3 linked regions of the Homo sapiens genome follow. The protein of the gene in region 3 interacts with the protein of the main gene of each other region in a pairwise test. Each region holds a gene or a part of one and is shown on either strand. Other genes may lie near its edges. The genes, in order: H4C7, MAOB and FGF14.

Evidence for each region.
Region 1: the proteins of FGF14 (region 3) and H4C7 interact in binary tests that used the Homo sapiens proteins (3 or more experiments, as listed by UniProt).
Region 2: the proteins of FGF14 (region 3) and MAOB interact in binary tests that used the Homo sapiens proteins (3 or more experiments, as listed by UniProt).

The regions. Positions count from the first base shown.
Region 1 is NC_000006.12:26,245,991-26,248,962, reverse strand, and holds H4C7 (histone H4-like protein type G), read left to right. Parts: upstream 1-1,966; 5' UTR 1,967-1,985; coding exon 1,986-2,282; 3' UTR 2,283-2,352; downstream 2,353-2,972. UniProt on the Homo sapiens protein: Core component of nucleosome. Nucleosomes wrap and compact DNA into chromatin, limiting DNA accessibility to the cellular machineries which require DNA as a template.
Region 2 is NC_000023.11:43,880,709-43,884,464, reverse strand, and holds the start of MAOB (amine oxidase [flavin-containing] B), read left to right. Parts: upstream 1-2,014; 5' UTR 2,015-2,165; coding exon 2,166-2,211; intron 2,212-3,756.
Region 3 is NC_000013.11:101,728,206-101,731,961, forward strand, and holds part of FGF14 (fibroblast growth factor 14), read right to left. Parts: intron 1-3,756. UniProt on the Homo sapiens protein: Probably involved in nervous system development and function.

The sequences.
Region 1 (2,972 bases), on a different chromosome or scaffold from region 3:
CACTTGAACCTGGGAGGTGGAGGTTGCAGTGAGCCGGGATCGTGCCACTGCACTCCAGCCTGGGCTACAGAGTGAGACCCCGCCTCAAAAAAAAAAAAAAAAAAAAAAAAAAAAAATCTAATTATTTCAAAATAATGTAGAAATAGGCTGTGATGGGATTGCTGCTTTTATTGCTTGGAATTCCATGGTTTATCAAGTTTGTTTGTTTGTTTTCCCCACAAATAGTTGTTTGCACTCTTGGCTTTTTGTTGTGGTGACCTGCTCATTAGGCCATAATTCATTTATGCAGTTACATGATTTTTTAGATATTGCTGACCCTGCTTCAAAAACCCATGATCTTTAGGACTGTTTGTTTGGTGCATCGTAACTGCACAATAAAAAATCCATTGTTATTTTGAACATTCTATTTTAGAGACATCATTTATTTCCACTTAAATGCTCTCGTTTAACTAGCTCAGCAAGTATTTTGTAATGTAAAAATTTAGTGGTGCTTATGTCTTTATTTTGGCTTGTGAGCAAATTCCCCTTTTCTCCTATTAACATTTATGACAGCTTTCCCTGAGTTTCCTGTTGTATCAACCCCAGAAGACAGTCACCCCCTGTACCTTCTGTCCTCCACATGAGAACAGGGCATGGAGCCTCTGGCAATTTACATTATCTTTTTTCTGGGCAATTCTTCATTGCTTAATTGTATAGTGCTTAATATAAGTGAAAGCACACTGAATGTATTGGTGTTGCAAAGGCAATGTTTTAAAATCCTTCGGTGTGCTTTACCTCTGCATTATTATTTTGTCTGTAAAAAAAGGCTGTGGCAATAAGAATTCGTTTACCAACTGGCCGGTGAGGTGGCTCACGCCTGTAATCCCAGCACTTTGGGAGGCCAAGGCGGGCGGATCACCTGAGGGCAGGAGTTGGAGACCAGCCTGGCCAACGTGAAATCTGGTCTCTACTAAAATACAAAAATGAGCCGGGAGTGGTGGCACATACCTGTAATTCCAGCTACTTGGGAGGCCGAGGTAGGAGAATAGCTTGAACCCAGAAGGTGGAGGTTGCAGTGGGCAGAGATTGCGCCATTGCACTCCAGCCTGGGCAACAAGAGCGAAACTCCGTATTTTAAAAAAAAATCATTTACTAACTATATGCCAGTGTTTTGCTTAAAGTAACTCAATTATTAACAAGTATTTACCCTTTTTACAGATAGGGCCATTGAAACTCAGATTAACATGTCTAATATCGGTGAGAGAGCAGTCACTCACAGATTCGAAACCAAAAACCAGGCTACTTCTCTTTAGCTGGGCGGCTTGGCAATATGATTAGGAATTCTTTTATGTCTTGGAATTTGGGCTTGTTTCAACTTCAGCATGGTAAATGCTCTAATATACAGGGAAGGAGTAAATCTTTTTTTTTTCTTTTTTGAGACGGGCTTCGCCCTTGCCCAGGCTAGAGTGCAGTGACGTGATCTCGGCTCACTGCAGGCTCCACCCCACGGGGTTCATGCCATTCTTCTGCCTCAGCCTCCTGCATAGCTGGGACTACAGGCGCCCGCCACCTCGCCCTGCTAATTTTTTGTATTTTTATTAGAGACAGGGTTTCACCGTGTTAGCCAGGATGGTCTCGATCTCCTGAGCTCGTGATCCGCCCGCCTCGGCCTCCAAAAGTGCTGGGATTACAGGCGTGAGCCACCGCGCCCGGCCAGGAGTAAATCTTTAAACACATACAGACATCAAAAATCGAGATACTTTCCTCTAGGTACATGTTTGACACTTTCGTTTAGAGATCCTTATTCTCTAAATGCCAGCAAATCTCCCTACTACAAGAGAATTTCTTATGTCTTGTTATTACTAGAAGTAGATGAGCGGGGACTGAATACGTTTTCCCGCCTTTCCTGGTCTTTCAGTTTTCAAAAAGGTCTACTCTACCGTTATATAAAAGGCTGCGGAAAGCGAGTAATCGTTTTGTTTAGAGATAGTTCTGACTTGTTTATCATGTCTGTTCGGGGCAAGGCCGGAAAAGGCCTTGGGAAAGGCGGTGCCAAGTGCCATCGCAAGGTACTGAGCGATAATATTCAGGGCATTACCAAGTGCACTATCCGGCGCTTGGCCCGGCATGGCGGTGTCAAGCGCATCTTGGGCCTCATTTATGAGGAGACCCGCCGGGTGTTCAAGGTGTTCCTGGAAAATGTGATCTGGTACGCCGTGACCAACACGGAGCACGCCAAGCGCAAGACGGTCACCGCCATGGCCGTGGTCTACGTGCTCAAACGCCAGGGAAGAACCCTGTAAGGCTTTGGCGGTTAAGTGAGGCCAGGCCTTTCCTTGCAATATCGTTAATGGCCCTTTTCAGGGCCGCGTACGTTTTCTTCCGAAGGGCTCACGTTTGACATTGTGGAAACTTAACTAACGCACTCAGCAATATTGTGTGTTTTATTGCTGTAGGTGCCCAAAAGCTGTTAGGTGTATAATGCTGTAAAGTATAAATTTACGCCAAGGCTGACATACAACATGGAATACAGGTGGTAAGTTAATCGTGTGTTCAGAGATTAGAAATCTGGTGGGCTGGCTGAGGACATCAACGGCTACATTGTCACTTAAAAGCTCTCAAAATGTGGTTATGGTAGTGTGTTTTTCTCCTTACTGTTAGGATTACCCTCCGTAATTAAAATTGTAGTTTTAGTGCCAAGATAACCCGACTTTTATATTCTGCTTAATAAGCAATTTCAATAACCAGAGAATACACAATAATTAGCACAAACTTGCCAGGTGCCGTTCTGACAAATGTGTCTGCAGTGGAGGGACTGGCCCCCTTGCTAGTTCAATGATCTAATTTAGCAGCACTAAAAGAAGTTTACCTGTTTCGTGCCTTTGCTTGTGATCCATCGTAAATATAGAAACACCTTGATAAGGTGTAACTGCAATAATTCGTGTCTCAATTTACTGTTTATGAAAGTACAGGGGTCAAAGAGCCAATTAAAC
Region 2 (3,756 bases), on a different chromosome or scaffold from region 3:
ATTACCTTTGTTTGGGGAAAATGCTGTTTGCTAATGAATTTTCTCCAGATACCATGGAACCGTGTGGATCCTCTCCTGCCCTCATTGCCAGTTGGACATAGAGAAGGGTTTATCAGTCTGCCTTTTATTCAAAGTCTTAGATCCCCAGGCTCCTGGCTGACTTGCACTGTTGGAACTAAGCAAAAGAGATTCCAAGAAGATCCCACAAGGATCTCGTGTTAGTCCATTTTGTGCTGCTAGTACAGAATACCTAAGGGGGGTAATTTACATTGAAGAGAAATTTATTGTATCATGGTTCTAGAGTCTGCAAATTCCAAGATGAGATGTTGGCATCTGGCAAAGGCCTTCCCAATATGTCATCCCATGGCAGAAGGGCAATGAGGGTTAGAAGGAGCAAGAGGTCAAATTTGCTGTCTCAGGCCCTTTTTATAGTGGCATTAATCCATTCATGAGGATGGAGCCCTTGGAACCTAAACATGCCCCAACATTGTTGCATTGAGGATTGAATTTCCAACACGTGAACTTTGGGGGACACATTCAAACCGTAGCAGATCCTCTCCATTCATCCTACCTCACCTGGCACGTAATTCACTTGCAGGCTAGGTGGGGAGACAAGAGTATCCACAGCCAAGAAGCCCACAGCTTCAGGGACCTGTGAACAGAAGTGGACCAGATAGGGGATGGCAAGGAGGAGGTCAGCACAAACTGTCTGCAGGGTGAGGTAGCTTCATTCTCTGCAGTGGGGACATGAGGTAGGGATCGGGGTTCAGGCACAGGGTCTGACTGTTTTATACCAAAGCAGGACAGATGGAAGTCAGAGGTGGACAAAGACTTTTCCTGTCACCTGTGACTCAGTCACAGAAGTGCCCAAATTGTCTTCTGGTCTGAGGACAGCAGAAGCTCAGGATACCTTTCTAGCAGGTAGATACAGGGAATGGTGTGGGATGAGGCAGAGGTTTGCTTCAGGTTCTCATCAAATTCCCCAGATCTGAAGCCAGCCCCTCTCAGGCCTGAACAGAAGCACTTCACCTGTTTATTTCTTGAAAAGCCATTCTATGTTGCTGCTTCCCACTTTTAGTTCTCAGAGGTGGCTTTCCTACTGTCCAGAAGACATAAACTTCTGTTTTCCCTGGAGTCACCTTAGCTTAAACTCCTATAATCTTGTTGAATCATCCCTGTGTTTGGCTAAACCAGGCTCCTCATACCCACGTTCCAGGGTCACACAGGTAACTTGGCTTGCTGCTTCTGGGGGCTCTGAATCCCACAATGCCGATCCACCACCTCTTCCCTGCTGCCACTAGTCTCCTGGGGTCTAGCCTCAACAGCTTCCACCAAGGACACACTGCATTGCTTAAGAGTGTATTTAAGGTGCGGCATTTGTGATGCTAGGGAGGAGCCTTCCTGACTTAATCACGTAGGGGGAGTGGGGAAAGAAGTGGGTATTTGGAAGGAGGGTGAGGTGGGCTGGGAATGCCAAGAAATGGTAGTACTGTGTGGTGAATCAAAGTGGGTCTTGGAATCTTCCTAGCTTTTCTTTTCTTTTCTTTTCTTTTTTTTTCTTTCTGACTTTTTATCTTATGTTGTCACTCACCATGTTTTGTTTTCCTCATCTGCAAAATGGATTGTTGTAAGCTTGAACAGGAATCATGCATAAAGTACTGAGCACAGTGCCTGGTACCTTGAAATCACTCAATGGAAGTTTCTTATTATTTGCCCTACACCCAAGGAGTAATTGGGGCCCTGAAGGAAGACACCCCAATTTGCCGTCCTCCCAGCCGCCAAGCCTGATAGTGCACTAGGGAGGCTGATGGGAAAATACCGTGCAGAAGGCTGAGGAGTGGGGATTCTGGGGCGGGACTCTTTGAAGTCCTAGGTGACCTCTCCGCCCAGGCACCCGCCCTCCCCGGGCCTGGGCTGCAGAGCTGCGGGCGGGGGCGGTGGCCCTGCGCTGCACCCGGCCTGCCTGCGCGTAGGCGGGCGGGCGGGGCTGCGCGTCCGGGCTCCCGGGGCTGGTAATATAGCGGCTCGCCGAGGCGCTGGTGCACGGGGGCAGCGCGCAGCAGGCCGGCGGGCAGGCGGGCGGGCTGGCTGGCAGGCAGGACTGGGATCGAGGCCCAGAAAACGGAGCAGCGGGCACCAGGGAGGCCTGGAACGGGGCGAGCGCCATGAGCAACAAATGCGACGTGGTCGTGGTGGGGGGCGGCATCTCAGGTTAGTCGCGGCTGTGCGCCCTCCTTCCTCTTCACGCGCTCGGACAGGTGGCTGCCTGGGGGAGACGCGGGGGGCGGCCGTGGGGCAGGGGCTGACCCTGGAGTCCCCAGACTGTCCACGCACGGGCAGGGCTCTAGTGGGTCCAGAGCGCCGTGCACTGAACCCTCCTTTGGGGGCAATTTTGGGTGCGTTCCCGGACGCAGAGGCCAGAGGCTGGAAGCCTGTTGCAGCTCTGGGGCCAGACTTTGAACTTCTCCCCCAGAAGGCTGCTAGGCCTTCGCTTGCTGGAATTTTCGAAGCCAGGGAAAAGGGGTGGGGAGGTGGCACAAAGGTCAGTCATTTGCTCCAACTTGACCTGGACACTCCGCACCCTCGCTTAGAGCAAGCATGCACCACATCGTATTGTTGTCCTGGCGTCAGGAAAACGACCTTGAACAGAAGAGGTTGGAGCCTGGCCAATCGATTGCCAAAGACTTTCCAGGCCCTCCTGATTCTTTGAGGTTCTGTGATTGTCACGGATCTAACTTGAGGCTGCAGTGTCTTTTTGGCAAATGCCTGTTTTCCTCTTATGCCTCTCGCACCCCCACTCCACCCCACCCCACTCCTAGCGCAGGGTGGCCAAGCTGCAGCTTTGCTCTCTGGCCTAGCCCATATTTGGCAAGGATGGGGACAGACACTACCCCCTCAGCCACACGGGGCTGTGTACATACCAAGGGCACCGAAAAATAGAAGCCAGAAGAAGGGATGGGGGTAGTGGTGGAACTTACCCTCTGTGGAGGATCAGGCAGATCCTATGGGATAGGGTCAATGGGAATCAATGATGCTCTCAGCACAGCCTGTTTAATGGCCCCCTGGGCATGCTTTGGCCCACCTCCTAACGCTGCCTAGTACTTGAGCAGTAATTAGGACACCTCCAGACCCGTGGATGCATTGTCTAAGACTTGCCTTAAGGAGTTCTCAAGTGGCCTTTGGGAAGTAGAGGTTGGCCTTGCTCCCTGCCAGGAGGGCAGGACAGAGTTGTTCTGACTCTCCTGTGGCTGGAGAAAAAACCAAGGCATTGGATGTTTGGTGCTGACCATGGTCCAGTCCTCCTGCCTCTGCTCCAGCCTTTCTCCCCTTTGGGTGGGATCTCAGGCTACCACATCTGTCTAGCAGGCTCTGGTGAGCTCGCCCATGCCAGGCCCTGTGCCTGGTGTTGCAGGTACATAGATGCGTAATCACAACATGCTGAGGTTGGCCAAGGCTGTGTATAAATTCAGTTTTCTTTCAGTATTTTTGACATCTTCTCTCCTAGAGGAAGTTGGACTTAAAAGCATACCTACTTAGGTGTTTTAGAAAATATTACTAAGTGCCTCTTGATGCTGCCTTGCATAGCACCCCATCTTACAGAAGCTGAAGTTTCTCTTTTCAGGCCCCCGAAGTCATTTTCTCACTAAAGTATGCCCAATGGATTCAGATTTTTCTATTTTCCCTTCATGATTTGTCCCTTTCTGATTCATACTCCACACCTTCAGGTTCAATCACATTACTCATGTTAGACTCATC
Region 3 (3,756 bases):
AAGGGGAACAGCCTTTGTTAGTGGCAGATGCTTTTCAAGACAAAGATGACAGTTACAGTGATCAATTTGATGAAATCACAATAGCCAAATGACAGGTTTAGCCCCCTCCTGGAGCAACTTATGTAGATCTTTATTTCTTCTTGATGATGCTACCTCAGATTAGAATAAGATCCCATCCAAATAAATGTTCTGGCTTTCTACTGAGTTCTGCATCTCCATATATCCTCCAATTAGTTTTCTCACTAATAAATGAGAGTCCACTGAGTCAATGTCCAGGCCATGCGCCCGAAAAAAAAGATTGATAAAACAGTACATGTTCATGCATTTATTGTGAGTAAAACAAAATGGAATGCTATAAATCTGGCTTCTCCCCAAGAGACTAATAAATATATTGGTTGAAACTATACTTTCTCAAACAAAAGGATTAGACTTTGGCATTTCACTTGTCTTTTTACTGAGACAGGGCAGGGCACCTAAGCATATTGCTTACCAGTTAAAAACCTATCTCAAAATCAGCTATGAGTGACATGCTGAGAGCTGACTTAGTGGGTCACTTAGTGGAAGTCAGGGGAATCTGGCTCTGCCTCCTGGGCTTCGGGTGTCTCTGCCCAGAACCTGGCTCACTGATGCTCATCCTGTTGCTACAAACACCAGAAACGTAGGTCCACAGGATTCTCTTCTGATCGTCACTGCCATAATGTCCAAAACATGAATGGTGCTTGCAACACCATCAGCAACTTAGGGATGTATTGTCTCCATTATGAATTCACTGTGTTGAATATGGAAGAGAAGAAGATGCTTGATGTAGAGGAAGTAATTTATTCTCGGTGGATACCTTAAGGATTCTGACACTATATCTTTTCAGATGAAATGTTCACATCATAGGACTCCAAAGAAGTCAATTCCACAGCACCTTTCTGTGAGCTGTGCCCGTGACTTCACAGATAGGTGATTCTTTCTGTAGAACTATTGCCTTCAGTTGCTTGTGATAGTGGAGACTGGTATATTTTCAGCCTTCTTATTTGTGGCTAAATAATTAATGCACACACAAATGCACATGTTACATTCAAAGATGTTATTGTCTAATACATTTTCTCAAAACTTTTTGAGAACTTAATCTGTTCCTCCAATATTGAAGTCTCAAATAATCCCAGCATTTCCTATAGAACCGATAGAACCAATGGAAGTTGAGGTTAGTTGCTATTTGATGTCATAAGTGATATACTTTCAACACGTAAATGGGAAGCAATGGAGCAGATAAACATCACCTGTGGAGGCAGACAGTAGGATTCAACCCTGACCCCACTAGCTGTGTGTTCTTGGGGAAATTACTCAATCTCTCTGGGCTTCAGTTTCCTCATCTCTAAAATGAGGACAAAAATCATAGGGCAATAAGGTAGTTGGGATGATTGAGTGAATAAATACGTATTACACATTTAGAAGAGAACTTGGTATACAGTGAGCACTCAATAATTATTCTTTAAAAGTTTCTCATTATTTGTAGTAAAAAATATATCCTGATCAGTTATTTCAATTCTGTGAAAATCTCACCAAAAGTCAGCTACATAATTAGTCAATGAAAACCATTTTACACAAAATATTGGGTTCAGCATGAAATATACCAAGATAAATAATAGTCATTCATTTCACTGAAAAATGACAGAACAATATAATATTTGTTATGAGTGACTTACCTATAAAATACTAGAGTGATTATAGGGAGAATAAATGGTATTGTGAAAGGCAAGAGGTGGGAAATGGCCTGGTACATTTGGAGAACTGTAAATAGTTCATCACTGAGATACACGCTTTGTGGGACAGAAGTGGAGAATGTTGTAGATGGGAAGATAGGTTTGAGAAACATAATAAAGGGTCTTGAAAACTCTAATAAACAAATTAGATGTCTTATAAGTGAGAGGAAGACATGTTGAATTCCTGAATATGCAAGGGAATAATAATAGGGCCTGATTCGTATGTTATAAATACAAATCTGTTGTCAGTGTGGAGGATGGTTTCGAAAAGTTAAGAACATGTCGTACTGATGTTTTCAACCCTAATCTCTCACAAAATGAACCTGAAAGTTGTTTGTAGCACATGAGTATATGTGTGTTCACGTTAATAGTTAGTATTAATATTACAAATAGAGAACCAGAACACACAAAGTAAGGGGAGAAATAATATCAGGATTATGACACACTGACTTCTGAACTTTCTGGTAGCCAGGACAAAAAGAGAAAGACTATAATGTTACAAAAATTATTCAAGAAAGAAAATATTTTCCTTTTTGAAAATGAAAAGTTTCTTGGCATGAATTTTTAAAAGGTATTTCCTTATAAGGGACCTAAAAAACTGACATTGACCAACATAAACAAAAATGCTCTTGAGAGTAATTGCACAGTCATACTTTGTGCTTCAATCCTGCAGTATGCTTTAGGAAAACAGATTGCATTGAAAATGTCCAATAGGTAGAACTACTTAAAGTCCAGTAGGTGGAAATAATTGTAATTGATGAGATCTCCAGGGATAATGTGCACAGCACGGGCCACAAACTCAAATGCCTCTAATGACCAGGTAGATACAGGAGTGAGGAAAGCTGGCATGATCATGGCACCGTAATGAGGATAAATGGCCTCTGACTCAGGCTCTGTGGTGAGGAGATGAAGACAGTGGTAGAAGCAATGATTTTTTTAAAAAAGCAGCCGTCCCTCACATGGTTCTCCTGTGAAAATAAAAACCTTAGATCTTTAGAAGATCTGATTTTTCAAAGGAAGTAAGAAATGTAAGTTTCTACAGATAATCTCCTTTTAACATTGGCAACTATTTCTTAGTTTTTGTTTTTCAACCTTGAGTGGGTCAAGGGGCCACAGGGAAGCCTGTGAGCCTTCAGTATGAGACCTCCAATGTACAGCAGCAAGAACCAAAGAAAGAGGAGCCCTACTTTGCTTCTCAAGGCAGTCCTAGTCTAATTGATAGTTGCTATACAGTTGGATAATACAATTATTGTGCCAGTGAAACACTCTCTAAAACTGGCAGTGATAATATGAAAATGCTTATTTAAATTTAGGCTTAAATATAAACTCTTTGAATCTGCCAAAACGAGATCGATAAGGAGTTTGATGTATCTTTTTCTCACCTTGCCTCCTTGACTATGTTTAGAACCATCACCCCCACCACAACAAAATCAACAACAGATGAGTTCCAGCAGAAGCTTGAATATTAATTTGCACCACTGCCAAACTAAATCATCAAGTCATAGGATAGAAAAATGCAATAATTAAACAGAAATGTTATATCTTTTTTATGTTGTGGTTGTTTTTGAAATGAAAGCACCATCTGTGGTGTACTTATTATCTTAACAGTAGCAGCAGAATTCCTCTTCTGAGGGAAATGCCTTTGTTTAGGAAAATACCGTGATGGGCCATTTGCTTGTACAAAGAGAGACTTCTGGTTGGAAGGAGCTCTCCTTCCATAACTCATCAGGAATGAATAACTCAGATAATCTGGCAAAACCATAACCTCAGAATTGAAAGTGACCTTGAGAATCTAATCCAGTGGTCCAGCAAACTGACTCTCAGGCCAAACACAATTTTCACCTGTTTTTGTAAATAAGGTTTCATTGGAAAACAGGCACTTTCCTTTGTTTATATATTGTCTGTGTCTGCATTTACACTACAAATTTCAGAGCTGCGTGGTCGAGAAAGATCTTTATGGCTCACAAAACCTAAAATGTTTACTATATGGTCCTTTGCCAAAAGT